Linked DNA regions of Homo sapiens. The protein of the gene in region 1 purifies or fractionates together with the protein of each later gene. This does not show direct contact. Each region holds a gene or a part of one and is shown in the gene's direction. Other genes may lie near its edges.

Region 1 (3,500 bases):
TGTTGCCCAGGCTGGAGTGCAATGGCACAATCTCGGCTCACTGCAACCTCCACCTCCCGTGTTCAAGCAATTCTCCTGCCTTAGCTTCCCCAGTACCTGGGATTACAGGTGCCTGCCATCACGACTGGCTAATTTTTTTGTGTTTTTAGTAGAGACGAGGTTTCACCATGTTGGCCAGGTTGGTCTCGAACTCCTGACCTCAGGTGATCTACCCACTTTGGCCTCCCAAAGTGCTGGGATTACAGGTGTGAGCCACCGTGCCCGGCCCATAGTAAACTTTTAAAAAATCCTGATTTATTCTGTTTCATAGTTTGGGAAACACCTACTTCCATGACTTTGGCTTTGCCAATATTCTTGTGTTAGAACCCAAGGAAATTAGAAATAATAAATTTTAAGGAAATGCATTATGAAACAAGAACTTTTTAATTTCATAGTAGAAGAATCCAGTGAACAATTTTCAAGTCAGTGCTTTAAAAGCTCTGGAATAGGCTGGGCGCGGTGGCTCACGCCTGTAATCCCAGCACTTTGGGAGGCTGAGGTGGGCAGATCACCTGAGGTCAGGAGTTCGAGACCAGCCTGACCAACGGGGTTTTAGTAGAAACCCCGTCTCTACTAAAAATACAAAATTAGCCGGGCGTGGTGGTGCATGCCTGTAATCCCAGCTACTCAGGAGGCTGAGGCAGGAGAATCGCTTGAACTTGGGAGGCAGAGGTTCCGGTGAGCCGAGATTGCGCCGTTGCACTCCATCCAGCCTGGGCAACAAGAGCCAAACAACGTCTTAAAAGAAAAGAAAAGCTCTGGAGGCTGGGCGTGGTAGCTCACGCCTGTAATCCCAGCACTTTGGGAGGACGAGGCGGGTGGATCACGAGGTTAGGAGATCGAGACCATCCTGGCTAACATGGTGAAACCCCATCTCTACTAAAAATACAAAAAATTAGCCGGGCGTGGTGGTGGGCGCCTGTAGTCCCAGCTACTCGGAAGGCTGAGAGGCAGGAGAATGGCGTGAACCTGGGAGGCGGAGCTTGCAGTGAGCCGAGATGGCGCCACTGCACGCCAGCCTGGGCGACAGAGCAAGACTCTGTCTTAAAAAAAAAAAAAAAAAAAGCTCTGGAGTAAACTTGAAAGATTCCTCAAAATGTTACAGTTGCTTAACTGCTGTGGCAAAACTGTCTTGTAAATAGAAAATCATTAGTATCAAAATAATCTGGAGCATGTTTATTTATAAAAGTCAGAAGGTATTTTGTTATATTTAGCATCTGAGAATGGAATTTTCAAAGCCAATTGCTAATAAAGGAAATGTTCTCCTCTGGGAACTGTGCTTATAATTTTAAAGTCCCAAAGCACAGTATAGTTGCCAAACTAAGAAACTTGGAGTTTAGGCTTTGGGAATGATCCTCTTCCTACCCAACCATATTTTTCTGATGGAGCTTAGGAAAGCAAAGGATGAGATATGGTCTGAAAGATTGGCATCTTAAAATTTATGATTGAGTTGGCATTTCAGGAGATTTTGTTTCGGAAGTTAGCGTATAGGTTCTGGGGTTTTCTGCTTTACTTAATTGCTGAAGTGCTATTTAAATTAGAGCTTTACTTATTTCAAGGCTTCCTTTCTAGATAGATGAAACCCATATGGAGAGGAAATAGTGACATCATTTAGAAAGGGGAGTTTAAATCTTAACTGAAGATAGCGTGTAAGAGCAGGGGCTTGGGTCAGTTACATCTACCTTGAGCCTGGGCTCCGCCACATAAAGGCTGTGTAACTTTGAGTAGATCATGGAAGTTGTGGCAGCCTCAGTTTGTCCATCATTAAAATGGGGGTCATAAAATTGTATGTGCTTTACAGGATATTCATGTGGATTAAACGTATGTATGGGCTGACAGCAGAGCTTGTCACATAATATGTTAGCTATGTTGCTACTGATTAAAATAGATTTTTATAGAAAAAACTTTAATATTCATCTTACACACTTGAAAGGTGATTAAATCTTCAAGTTATATATATTTGTAGAACCTATTCATATTCATTACCTTTTAAGGAAAGTTTTATAGAAAGGACTTAGCCTTCTATGACCTATCTTCGGTTTATTTTCAATTTTAATTTTTTTTTTTTTGAGATGGAGTCTCGCTGTGCCACCCAGGCTAGAGTGCATTGATGTGTTCTTGGCTCACTGCAGCCTCTGCCTCCTGGGTTCAAGTGATTCTCCCATCTCAGCCTCCCGAGTAGCTGAGATTACAGTCACATACCTCCACGCCCAACTAATATTTTTATTTTTAGTAGAGACAAAGTTTCACCATGTTGGTCAGGCTGGTCTCAAACTCCTGACCTCAGGTGATCCACCCGCCTTGGCCTCCTGAAGTGCTGGGATTACAGGCGTGAGCCACCGCGCCCGGCCTCTTTTTGGTTTATTTTCTTGTGGAATTTTTCAGTACTCCGAATCACAGGCTTTAACTGTAGAAGGACCACTGAACACTGTTGTATGCAATTACCTTCTTTTATAATTAAAAATGGTTTTCAATAGACTTTGAGATTGAACTACTCAAATAAAATATTAAAGAACTATAACTACTTCAGGTATAAGAGAAATGCTTAATTTTTTTCAAGAAAATTTTTTTATGTTGAGAAATAATTTAGGAATTAAAAAAATCAGTAAACCTTAACTATGATTCCCAGGCTTAACAGGGAGAGGAGGTGAAAGATTATTTTCTCATATAACCAATTATTTTATGTTTCTTATTTTTGTTGCTCAAACAGTATGATTTTATTTTAAAAACTCAATTACTGCATGATTTTTGACTATTTAAAATTAGTTTTTCCAAAATCTATTTTTAAAAAATGTTTTGTGTTTGCCCAGGTTAACATGGTATTTCATTAGAAGAATTTTTATCGGCCGGGCGCGGTGGCTCACGCCTGTAATCCCAGCACTTTGGGAGGCTGAGGCGGGCGGATCACGAGGTCAGGACATTGAGACCATCCTGGCTAAGACGGCAAAACCCCTTCTCTACTACAAAAAAAAAAAAAAATTAGCTGGGTGTGGTGGCGCCCGTAGTCCCAGCTACTCAGGAGGCTGAGGAGAATGGCGTGATGGCGTGAACCCGGGAGGCGGAGCTTGCAGTGAGCCGAGATCCCACCACTGCACTCCAGCCAGGAGGACAGAGCGAGACTTCATCTCAAAAAAAAAGAATTTTTATCATCTTTAAAAAATGTTAAATTGCTCTCCTTGGTTGTTAGGACTAGAAGGGACTTTAAAGGTGTTTTTTATTTTTAGGAACAGGGTCTCACCTTGTTGCCCAGGCTGGAGTGTAGTGGCACAGTCATAGCTCACTACAGCTTTAAACTCCTGAGCTCAAGCCATCCTCCTACCTCAGTCTCCTGAGTAGCTCAGGACTACAGGCCTGAGCCATGGCACCCGGCTTGAGGTAGTTATTTTATAGAAGAGGATGCCACAGCTCAGAGAGTTTAAGTTATTAGCTCAAGATGACTTAGTTGGTTAGATACAGAATGG
Region 2 (3,500 bases), on another chromosome or scaffold:
GTGGGCTTTTCTACTCTCTACTAGAGCTATTACAAAATAGCCGATATGTAAACATTCTCATAACAAAAACCCAACCAGAAAAGCCACTGTCTTAAAGCCCTGTTCTATCCTCTCCCTTTGTAATACCGTCCTAAGTCAGTTGCTCCATGGGATGCGATGGCCCAGTTTGGCAGGACCATCTGTTCCTGGTTAAGGAAACCTTGTCCTATGACCAAGGAGCCTTGACCTATATAGCCACAGGTCCTTGTCTAGGAGGTAAACATATTGCCAGCACCCAGCACAGTGACTGACATGAGTGAGGGACAGGCGGGAAGAGGCCAATTGGTAGGTATTGCCAGATCCAAATTGGAAATGGTGGTGGCTTGTAGAGGGTGGTAGCAGGGGAGATAGTGGAAAGGGAAGGGGGTATTTTTGGGATCAAGCAGCAGGATTGGCTGATGGAGTGAATGTTGGAGGAGGGGGTGAATGAGAGAGGATGACTCCTGGGATTTTGGCTGGAGTAAGTAATAGTTTTGTAGCCCAAATGCTTAAAAGATTGGACTCTGTTGTCTCTGTTCCTCAGCTCACCACATAGGATCCTGGCATCCACTGTGCTAGTGCAGTAATCAACTCGGTAATTGTTCCATATGGTGTCTCCACTGCCCTCTAATTGCAAATCTAAGTGACTTGGGTTCAGTCCCTGTCCTACTTGACAAGATAGCCTGTGGCATCATTGACTATACCATCTTATTTAAAACAAAACAAGGCTGGGCGCAGTGGCTCATGCCTGTAATCCCAGCACTTTGGGAGGCCGAGGTGGGTGGATCACTTGAGGTCAGGAGTTCCAGACCAGCCTGGCCAACATGGTGAAACCCCATCTCTACTAAAAATACAAATGTTAGCTGGGTGTGGTGGTGCGTGCCTGTAGTCCCAGCTACCAGGGAGGCTGAGGCAGGAGAATTGCTTGAACCAGGGAGGTGGAGGTTGCAGTGAGCTGAGATTGCGCCACTGCACTCAAACCTGGCAAACAGAGCGAGACTCCGATCTCAAAATAAATAAATAAATAAATAAATAAATAAATAAATAAAAATAATAAAATAAAACAAGCAACCTATTATATACCCACAAAAATTAAAAATACAAAAAGAAGATGCAAAAGAAAAAAACAGGTTTACTCTCTTAGCAAATTTCAGGCATATAATACATTATTATAGTGGCCATGCTGTAAAAAAATAAAAATAAAAAATAAAAACAAGCCTTGACCCCCAAATGTAAAAAGAATACAGGCTTTTTAAGAAAACTTGGAAAAGATAGAAGAGCCCAAAGAATAAACATTTATATTACCCATAACCCCACTATGTAAAGATAACTGGTATATGTCTTGCACACATATGCACACACATATACACGGTCATCTGAATATTCTATTCAAAAAGGTATCATACTATATATTGTTCTGTACCCTGTATGTGACAGAATAGTGTGACACTTTTCCATGTCAATATTCTTGCATGTCATAATTTTAGTAGCTGCATACTTTTCCATCATATGAATGTGGCATATTTATGTAACCAATTCCCAGTATTAGATTTTTGTGATTTCAATTTTTTTGGTATTACGATTCTTATATAATGTATCTTTATGCAATCTCTGATTATTTCTTTAGGAAAAATGTCTACAAGTGTAATTACTCTGTTAAAAGGGCTTATACAATTTTCCAAATTGAAAAAAATGCTTTTTTCTTCTAATTCTCAAAGTAATATAGACACAGTGGCAAAAAGTCTAAACAGTTAAACTTTTTAATATTTTGGCATATAGTTTAGATTTTTCTTTTTTTTTTCTTTTTATCGAGACTGAGACTCCCTGTCACCTAAGCTGGAGTGCAGTGGTGTGATCTCAGCTCATTGCAACCTCCAACTCCTGGGTTCTAGCAATTCTCCTGGCTCAGCCTCCCAAGTAGCTGGAACTACAGGTGTGTGCCACCAGGCCCAGCTAATTTTTGTATTTTTAGTAGAGACACGGTTTTGCCATGTTAGCCAGCCTGGTCTCAAACTCCTGGGCTCAAGAGATCCACTTGCCTTGGCCTCCCAAAGTGCTGGGATTACAGGTGTGAGCCATCGCACCCAGCCTAGGTTTTTCTTTAGAAATGCTTCTCTTTAAGACTTTTGATAGATATTTCAAGTGTCTTTGCAGATTTCTGCCACTTTATATTCCCATGATCAGTATATGAGTGTTTACTTCCTTATATCCCCAATTCTGGATTATTCCATTATTAAATTTCTAGACAGAAAAGGGTCTCATTTCAATTTGTACTCCTTTGATTATTAGTGAGTTTGAATTTTTTTTACCACTCTCATGAATTTTCTATTTATGTCCTTTGATATTTTTGCTGTGTTCACATCTTCCTTATTATTGGTATATAAATAGCCTTTTTTATAAGTAAGAAAATCCTCAGTCCTATCTGTAATACATATCCCTTTCCAGATTTTAATTTTTCTTTTAATTTTATCTATGATTTGAAGCGTTTATTTATTTAGAGACAGAGTCTCACTCTGTCACCCAGGGTGGAGTGCAATGGCGCGACCTCGGTTCATTGCAACCTCTGACTCCTGGCTTCAAGCAATTCTCCTGCCCCAACCTCCCAAGTAGCTGGGATTACAGGCACCCGACACCACTCCTACCTAATTTTTGTAGTTTTAGTAGAGATGGGGTCTCACCATGTTGGCCAGGCTGGTCCTCAACTCCTGATCTCAGGTGATCCACCTGCCTTAGCCTCCCAAAGTGCTGGGATTACAGGCATGAGCCACCACATCTGGCCTAAGCCTGTGTGGCTTTTTGTTTTTTGGTTTCCGATTTGGAAAGTAGGCTTAGAAAAGCTTTCCCTATTTCATTATTATATAAATATCATCTGTAGGCTGGGTGCGGTTGCACACACCTGTAATCCCAGCACTTGGGGAGGCCAAGGCACCTGGCTAACATGGTGAAACCCCGTCTCTACTAAAAATACAAAAAATTAGCTGGGTGTGGCGGCACCACCTGTAATCCCAGCTACTTAGGAGGCTGAGGCAGTAGAATCACTTGAACCCTGGAGGCGGAGGTTGCAGTGAGCAGAGAGTGCACCACTGTACCTCCAGCTTGGGCAACAGAGCGAGACTCTGTCTCAAAAAAATAAGAATAAAATAAATAAATAATTAAATATTATCTGTAGTTTCCTTCCCTCCCTCCCTCCTTTTCTTCTTTTCTTTTCTTTTTTCTTTTCTTTTCTTTCCATTTAACCATGGAGTTGGCCAAGCATGGTGGCTCACACCTATAATCCCAGCACTTTGGGAGGCCGAGGCAGGTAGATCACCCGAGGTCAGAATCTTGAGACCAGCCTGGCCAACATGGTGAAAACTCATCTCCACAAAAAATACAAAAAAAAAAATTAGCTGGGCATTGTGGCATGCACATGTAGTCCCAGCTACTTGGGAGGCTGAGGCAGAAGAATCGCTTGAACCTGGGAGGCGGAGGCTGCAGTGAGC
Region 3 (3,500 bases), on another chromosome or scaffold:
TTGTCACAGATAAGAAAATTCCTTGGACAATTGAGACAAATCTAGAGCTGGTAAATTTTGCCATAATTGGGTTTTTATTTCCAATTAAATGTTTTTTCTTTTTCTATTGCCAGTTCTAAATATTTTATGATTTGCAGTATAACTACTCTGTGATTCATGTATTTTGGGTAAATAAAACATGCAAAATATGAAGATAAAACTTAGTTCAAATAAATTATAATCATGATAACATGCAAGTTGAAAAGACATTTACTATATTGGTATGTGACTTTTTTTTAATCCTACTTTCTGGCTTCGCCAAGTTTCCCTAGTGGCTATTTTCCCTCTCCTGATTTGAACATATGCTGTTGCTGTTCTTATCATGGTTCCCCTCCCCCATCTTTTAAACATTGCCTATTTGATTGTCTGAATCCAATAATATCAGTTTCCTTTTCCTGAACCTTAAACACTTTAACTTTCATCTTCCTCACATCTTCCTTTTATTTATGCTCCTTTTTAACCCCCATCCATACTTTTTTTTCCTCTTACATTCAGTGATGAGAATTACCAGGATGCTTATGGTCTTTTGCTCCCCATTGCTTCTTGAATTTTACTTCTTCCCTTTAGATTCAGTTTTCCCTCACTGAGTATATCTTTTAGAAGTGTTTCCAGAGAGGGTGATGAGTAGTCAAATGTTTTCAGTCTTTGTTCATTTGTAACTCTATTTGGCCAGCATTTTGGAATGTCTCTTTTAGCTGAGTGCAGAGTCCTGGGTGGCAGCCGCATCACTCCTGACCTCATCCATCTGTTGCAGATGAGAATGTTTTTGCCAGTCAGTCTAATTGTCATTTCACTGTAGTAAGTCTGCCTGATTTGACCTTCTATCCAGGGATAGATTTTCTTCTGTTCAAGGATGGATTTAGCTTTATCATTCTTGGAATTCAGTTGTGCTATTCCAAACCAAAGATTCTCCTCAGTTTTGGAAAATTCTCACCATCGTTTCTCCAGGTAGTGCTGTTTCCCCATGATCATTTCTCACACTCTGGAATTCTTATGAATGTTATTGAACCTTATTATTTTTGCCTTTCTTGTTTCCTCTCTATCGTATCTTCCAGATCTTTCTACTTCGCATATTGTAAGATTCCCTCAGATTTGTTTTCTAGTTTATTACATTATTTTCAGCTGAGCATGATCTCTGCTTAACTTTTCCATTGATTTATTAATATCATTTACTATATTTGTCTAAAATACTTACCTTTTCAAACCAGCCTGTTTCTTTTTATACTATTCTATTTTTTATTGTAGTTTGTAGTATTTTCTTAAATAATTTTAAACATTTACTTTATAGATAGCTTTATTATCTTAGTTTTGGGGTGCTGATTATTCTCTTTGGGGTACCAGTTATTCTCCCTCATAATTATTTTATTCTGTGCCTTGTAATTTTTGCTCCAGAACCTTTCTTCAAGAGTGACACATCATTGATATTGTGGTGGTTCTTTAATCCCGTAGGATATGAAAGCCTTGCTCCATAAGCGGTTCATAGTTCCTTCTGTTGGGGCCATAGGGCTTCAATAAGTCTGGCCCAATTTTTATGTAAGCCTTTCCCCTTGGGGGTCTTACACCTGGAGAGAGTATAAATTCATACCCTATATCTGTGTGAGGCAGTGGAGGCCCGCTGTTTCTAAGGGAACTTTTTTTGCAAGCCCCGACCTCCCTGAGACTATTTTAAGTTGTAGGCTTTGTGCAGGGCATTCAGTTCTAGCTCCCCAGCTGCATGTTGGCCATTGCATGTCTCTTATCTCCACCTGGGCATTCAAACCCTTGTCCATAAGGCTTGTATTTTTTTTTTTTTTTTTGAGACGGAGTCTCGCTCTGTTGCCCAGGCTGGAGTGCAGTGGCGCGATCTTGGCTCGCTGCAAGCTCTGCCTCCCAGGTTTACGCCATTCTCCTGCCTCAGTCCCCTGAGTAGCTGGGACAACAGGCACCCGCCATCACACCAAGCTAATTTTTTGTATTTTTAGGAGAGACAGGGTTTCGCCGTGTTAGCCAGGATGGTCTCGATCTCCTGACCTCGTGATCCGCCCGCCTCGGCTTCCCAAAGTGCTGGGATTACAGGCGTGAGCCACCGCGCCTGGCCGGTTTTTTTGTTTTTTTGTTTTCTTTGAGATGGAGTTTCGCTTTGTCACCCAGGCTGGAGTGCAGTGGCATGATCTCAGTTCACTGCAACCTTCGCCTTCTGGGTTCAAGTAACTCTTCTGCCTCAGACTCTCAAGTAGCTGGGATTACAGGCTCCCGCCACCATATCTGGCTAATTGTTATATTTTTAGTAGAGATTGGGTTTCATCATGTTGCCCAGACTTGTCTCGAACTCCTGACCTCAAGTGATCTGCCTGTCTCGGCCCCCCAAAGTGCTGGGATTACAGGCGTGAGCCACCGCACCCGGCCCCCTAAGACCTGTTGTCTGCAGTTTCCCTGGGCTGCTGCACTTTAGCTTTGATATCTCTTTGTTTCTGTCACATGAGGAGTCCCACTATGGCTGCCTTAGTTCAGGCCCTACCTGGTCACTGTGCTTCTAGTTCAAGCGCCCTCTAAGATTGCTTTGTCTTCCATTTAGGCACCAATATTCTTCATAAGACAGAAAAGCATGAACTCCACAGGTCATTGTGTCACGCCTCACTGTCTGACTTGGTTCTCCTTCATTTCCCCATCTCCCTGTGTACCAGCTTACCTTGACTTCCCCAGGGAATGTGTTTCACGTATTTGTGGCTTGAACATACTGTAGGCTGAGTATCCCTTATCCAAAATGCTTGGAACCAGAAGTGTTTTGGATTTTAGACTTTGGATTTTTGGATTGGGGATACTCAACCTGTACTTTCCAGACAGCCTGTGCCCCAATTTTTGGTCTAGCTAAGATTCAACTCAACTGTTACATTCTCCTTAAAGTTGCCTTTGACCTGGTCTCATTTAAATGATCTTTCTCTTTATTCCTGTTACACATGTGCATAGTTTTGTCTTGGCATTTATCATATGGTTCTCTATATGATGATTTGTCTTGGAGGACAGGCATCATTTCTTACTGTCTTTTTTCAGCTTCAGTCATTGATACACAGTAGCACTCAATAGTTCCTTGTTAAATGAGGATTTATGTTATATGATAACATATGCACAGACCTGCATGTGTGTCTGCTGAGTGTTAATCACCAAGATTGACTTTGAAGAAGTTCAGGATAGTTTTTCAAGATAATGATGTCCTGTTACACGTTCACATGCCAGTTTTTCTTGTTTTCTCCCTCCAGGGCTATTGTGTTTGTTGTGGATAGTGCAGCATTCCAGCGAGAGGTGAAAGATGTGGCTGAGTTTCTGTATCAAGTCCTCATTGACAGTATGGGTCTGAAGAATACACCATCATTCTTAATAGCCTGCAATAAGCAAGGTGCCATCATGTTTTCTTGCAATAATAATTGAGTTTTTTGGGGATTGCTGCTACTAAGAATTATTTCCATTATTTACAGTTGTTATTA
Region 4 (3,500 bases), on another chromosome or scaffold:
TGAAGTGGTTAGAAAACTTTCAGAAGTTGAGGTATTTCAATCAAAAAAAAAATACTAAATAGTATTATGAGTGTTCAAAAAAATCTCAAGCATTCCAGGATACTTTAAACTTGGGTATTATTATATAGTTAGGAAATACTTTCTGTCTGTCAGGTGGGAAGGAACAGTTACGCTGCTTTCATTGACAGCAATTCTCCATGTGAGTTTTGGTACTTACTCCCTAGTCAATGGCTGAGGAAATAAAAGCGTAACCAGGGAATCTTATTGTTTGCATTCTGCTTAGGATTCACCCTCCATACAGCAGACCATGATATGTGCTGGGGAATTGATTTCCTGTCACTTGGTTTTGCTTTGCTTCTATTTGAGGGGGGTCAGTGTAAGGCCAAGAGTCTACACTACTTGTTCTTTTTTAATTCACTCTGCAGAGAGGAAAACTAGCTGTGTCATATATTTAGGAAGTTCAAAGGTGAAATCATCTCCAAGGTCCTTTCTAGGTCTTGGAGGAGCAATCAAAATGCAATTTTTATTGCTTTGGGGAAAAAAATTCTAATTCATAATATAGATCTTTTCTTTGAACCACTGCAAAATTACCACATAAATAATGTATTACTAGAATTAGTTAAAATGCTCATCAGAAACTAAATGGTAAACATACCTTTCCTTACTACAGGTATAGTTTGTATTGCTACCTCATCCCATAGTGCCTGATTCACTGTTGTGTGATTAATTTGATATATAAAGAAAGTTACTAAGTGTCTTTTAATTTTTTATTAAATTGATTGCTGGATATTATTAAACTTGCTTTCAAGGATTGATAGGCTTAAAATATTTTCACAGCTAAAAGTCATACCCATTGGCCTTTCAAAAATGTAATTATATAAAGGCAGCATCCTTTTCCTGCCCCTGCTCTCCCTCCACTTTTATTTTTTTGTTGTTTTTGTTAATTCTTAGTTATGTTTTCTGTTTTAGTGTGAATTGAAATTCTTATGTTATTTGACTCAGCTTTATTTAAAGTCCAGGGCAGATGTTGATTTAGAATAGTCCATAGAATTATACTTTTTATAAATTTCATTTAGAAGGAATTCTAAATAACAAATATACACTTATTCTAATTAAATTGCCTGTAAACTTGAATCGCAGCGAAGTCTGAGTAATACTGAAGATGAATGTACCCATCTGAAAGAAATGAATGAAAGGACTCAGGAAGAATTAAGAGAATTAGCCAACAAATATAATGGAGCAGTTAATGAGATTAAAGATTTATCTGATAAATTAAAGGTATGTATTTACTCTGCCTGAAAGTATGTTAAGCTAATAATCCCTAACACACTAGATAGCTTAAGATTTTAGGTATTGCTTTAGCTGGGCGTGGGGTGGCGGGCGCCTGTAATCCCAGCTTCTCAGGAGGCTGAGGTAGGAGAATTGCTTGAACCCAGGAGACGGAGGTTGCAGCGAGCTGAGATCACGTCACTGCACTCCAGCCTGGGCGACAGAGCGATACTCCATCTCAAAGGAAAAACAAACAAACAAACAAACAAAAAACAGTTTGGGCCAGGCGCAGTGGCTCACGCCTGTAATCCCAGCACTTTGGGAGGCCGAGGCGGGCAGATCATGAGGTCAAGAGATTGAGACCATCCTGGCCAACATGGTGAAACCCCGTCTCTACTAAAAATACAAAAATTAGCTGGGCGTGGTGACACATGCCTGTAGTCCCAGCTCCTTGGGAGTCTAAGGCAGAAGAATCACTTGAACCCAGGAGGCAGAGGTTGCAGTGAGCCAAGATTGCACCACTGCACTCCAGCCTGGCGACAGAGCAAGACTTCGTCTCACAAAAAAAAAAAAAAAAAAAAAATTCAGTTTGAAAACCACTGGTATAGATAGATATTTTGAATTGATTTGCATAGTCTCCTTGAATGTGTTAAATTATGCTGAAAGTATGAAAGCAGGATGTAGGTGGTACTACATATTAAATAAGATTTCTATAAAAAAAGATTTTAGGTATTGCTGAATAGTTATTGATGTAAAAATTTGGTAACAGTTGAAATTTATAGTGAAAATAAGGTGTCTGTATTCCATTTAGCCCAACCTCCATTACTATAGATAATTGAAAGCCTGTAAATGCTGACATAGTTCCTCTGGATGAATATGTAGTCAGTGCTTCACAATAGACATTTCTAAAATATATAACAGGAAGTAGATGAGAATCAGCAAAACCCATGATATTCAGATGTTTTAAAACCTAAAACTGCTTATCATTAGGCCATCTAAAAGGCAGGGCCCAGCTATTTAGTGCTGTGCTGGAACAAGCCCAGAGAGAATCTGGGAATGATCTCCCTTTTAGCTTTCAGGGATGCTGTTAACTCTGCTTTAGCTGCCATTCCCTCTATCTATGAGACATCTAGGATAAGGACAGATCAGATCATAGGGTAATGATAGGGTAATGTCTAGTTGGTCCTTTAGAATCTTATAACTGAGGAAAAAAAAAATCTTATAACTGTTTGTGAAGGTCCATCTTGGTTTAATTCAAACTATGGATTGAGTGCCTAGAAGATATGTGTTTGTTAGAGAAGACCAGAGCATACCTCCGTTGGTTAACCTATGATAGTTTTCAAAGTTGGTCTTGTTAAAAGGAGATTGTCATTGTCCATTTTTGTTGCTATAAAGGAATAGCTGAGCCTGGGTAATTTATAAAGATAAGAGGTTTATTTGGCTCACAGTTCTGCAGGCTGAAGCTTCAGGCTGCTTCCACTGATGGCAGAAAGCAAAGTGGAGCTGGTACGTGTTCCATGGTGAGAGAGGGTCTGGGAGAGGTGCCAGGCTCTTTTTAAAAACCAGCTTTCATAGGACTAATAGAGTGAGAATTCACTCATTACCATGAGGACAGCACCAAGCCATTCATGAGGGATCTGCTCCCATAACCCAAACACCTCTCATTAGACCCCATCTCCAACACTGAGGATCAAATTTCAACATTGAGGCTTGGGGGACGAACATCCAAACTATAGGCAGAGAGGTCTTTTTGAATAGTGATTGTACTGTCATCTCGTTACTAAATAATTTTGTTTAAAATTTCAGAATGTTAACATGATAGAACTTCAAAATTGAAATGATAGTAATTTTAGGGAAAAATCTTACTTCCCTCTTTAAAAATACGATTTTTTTTTCCACATTGACCCTTTACCTCTGTGTGTACTGAGCCTACTTGCTTCCTCCAAGTTTCTCTCTCCTGGGTGTTATGGAGGAATAACCCAATGCAGATAATTTTTGACATCAAGCCTTTGTCTTTATCATCTTTACTGGTTTAGAAATGTCAGGTTAGCCGGGCGCAGTGGCTCATGCCTGTAATCCCAGCACTTTGGGAGGCCAAGGTGGGCTGATCATCTGAGGTCAGGCGTTCGAGACCAGCCTGACCAACATGGAGAAACCCCGTCTCTTCTAAAAATACAAAATTAGCTGGGTATGGTGGCGCATGCCTGTAATCCCAGCTACTTGGGAGGCTG

What was found.
Region 2: the proteins of CDS2 (region 1) and ALDH3A2 purify together in Homo sapiens (affinity purification with mass spectrometry; one large-scale study listed by BioGRID and IntAct). This does not show direct contact.
Region 3: the proteins of CDS2 (region 1) and SRPRB purify together in Homo sapiens (affinity purification with mass spectrometry; one large-scale study listed by BioGRID and IntAct). This does not show direct contact.
Region 4: the proteins of CDS2 (region 1) and SLMAP purify together in Homo sapiens (affinity purification with mass spectrometry; one large-scale study listed by BioGRID and IntAct). This does not show direct contact.

Annotation. Positions count from the first base shown.
Region 1 is NC_000020.11:5,130,008-5,133,507, forward strand, and holds part of CDS2 (phosphatidate cytidylyltransferase 2), read left to right. Parts: intron 1-3,500. UniProt on the Homo sapiens protein: Catalyzes the conversion of phosphatidic acid (PA) to CDP-diacylglycerol (CDP-DAG), an essential intermediate in the synthesis of phosphatidylglycerol, cardiolipin and phosphatidylinositol.
Region 2 is NC_000017.11:19,665,751-19,669,250, forward strand, and holds part of ALDH3A2 (aldehyde dehydrogenase family 3 member A2), read left to right. Parts: intron 1-3,500.
Region 3 is NC_000003.12:133,812,315-133,815,814, forward strand, and holds part of SRPRB (signal recognition particle receptor subunit beta), read left to right. Parts: intron 1-3,275; coding exon 3,276-3,412; intron 3,413-3,500. UniProt on the Homo sapiens protein: Component of the signal recognition particle (SRP) complex receptor (SR). Ensures, in conjunction with the SRP complex, the correct targeting of the nascent secretory proteins to the endoplasmic reticulum membrane system.
Region 4 is NC_000003.12:57,860,809-57,864,308, forward strand, and holds part of SLMAP (sarcolemmal membrane-associated protein), read left to right. Parts: coding exon 1-31; intron 32-1,140; coding exon 1,141-1,278; intron 1,279-3,500. UniProt on the Homo sapiens protein: Associates with the striatin-interacting phosphatase and kinase (STRIPAK) core complex, forming the extended (SIKE1:SLMAP)STRIPAK complex.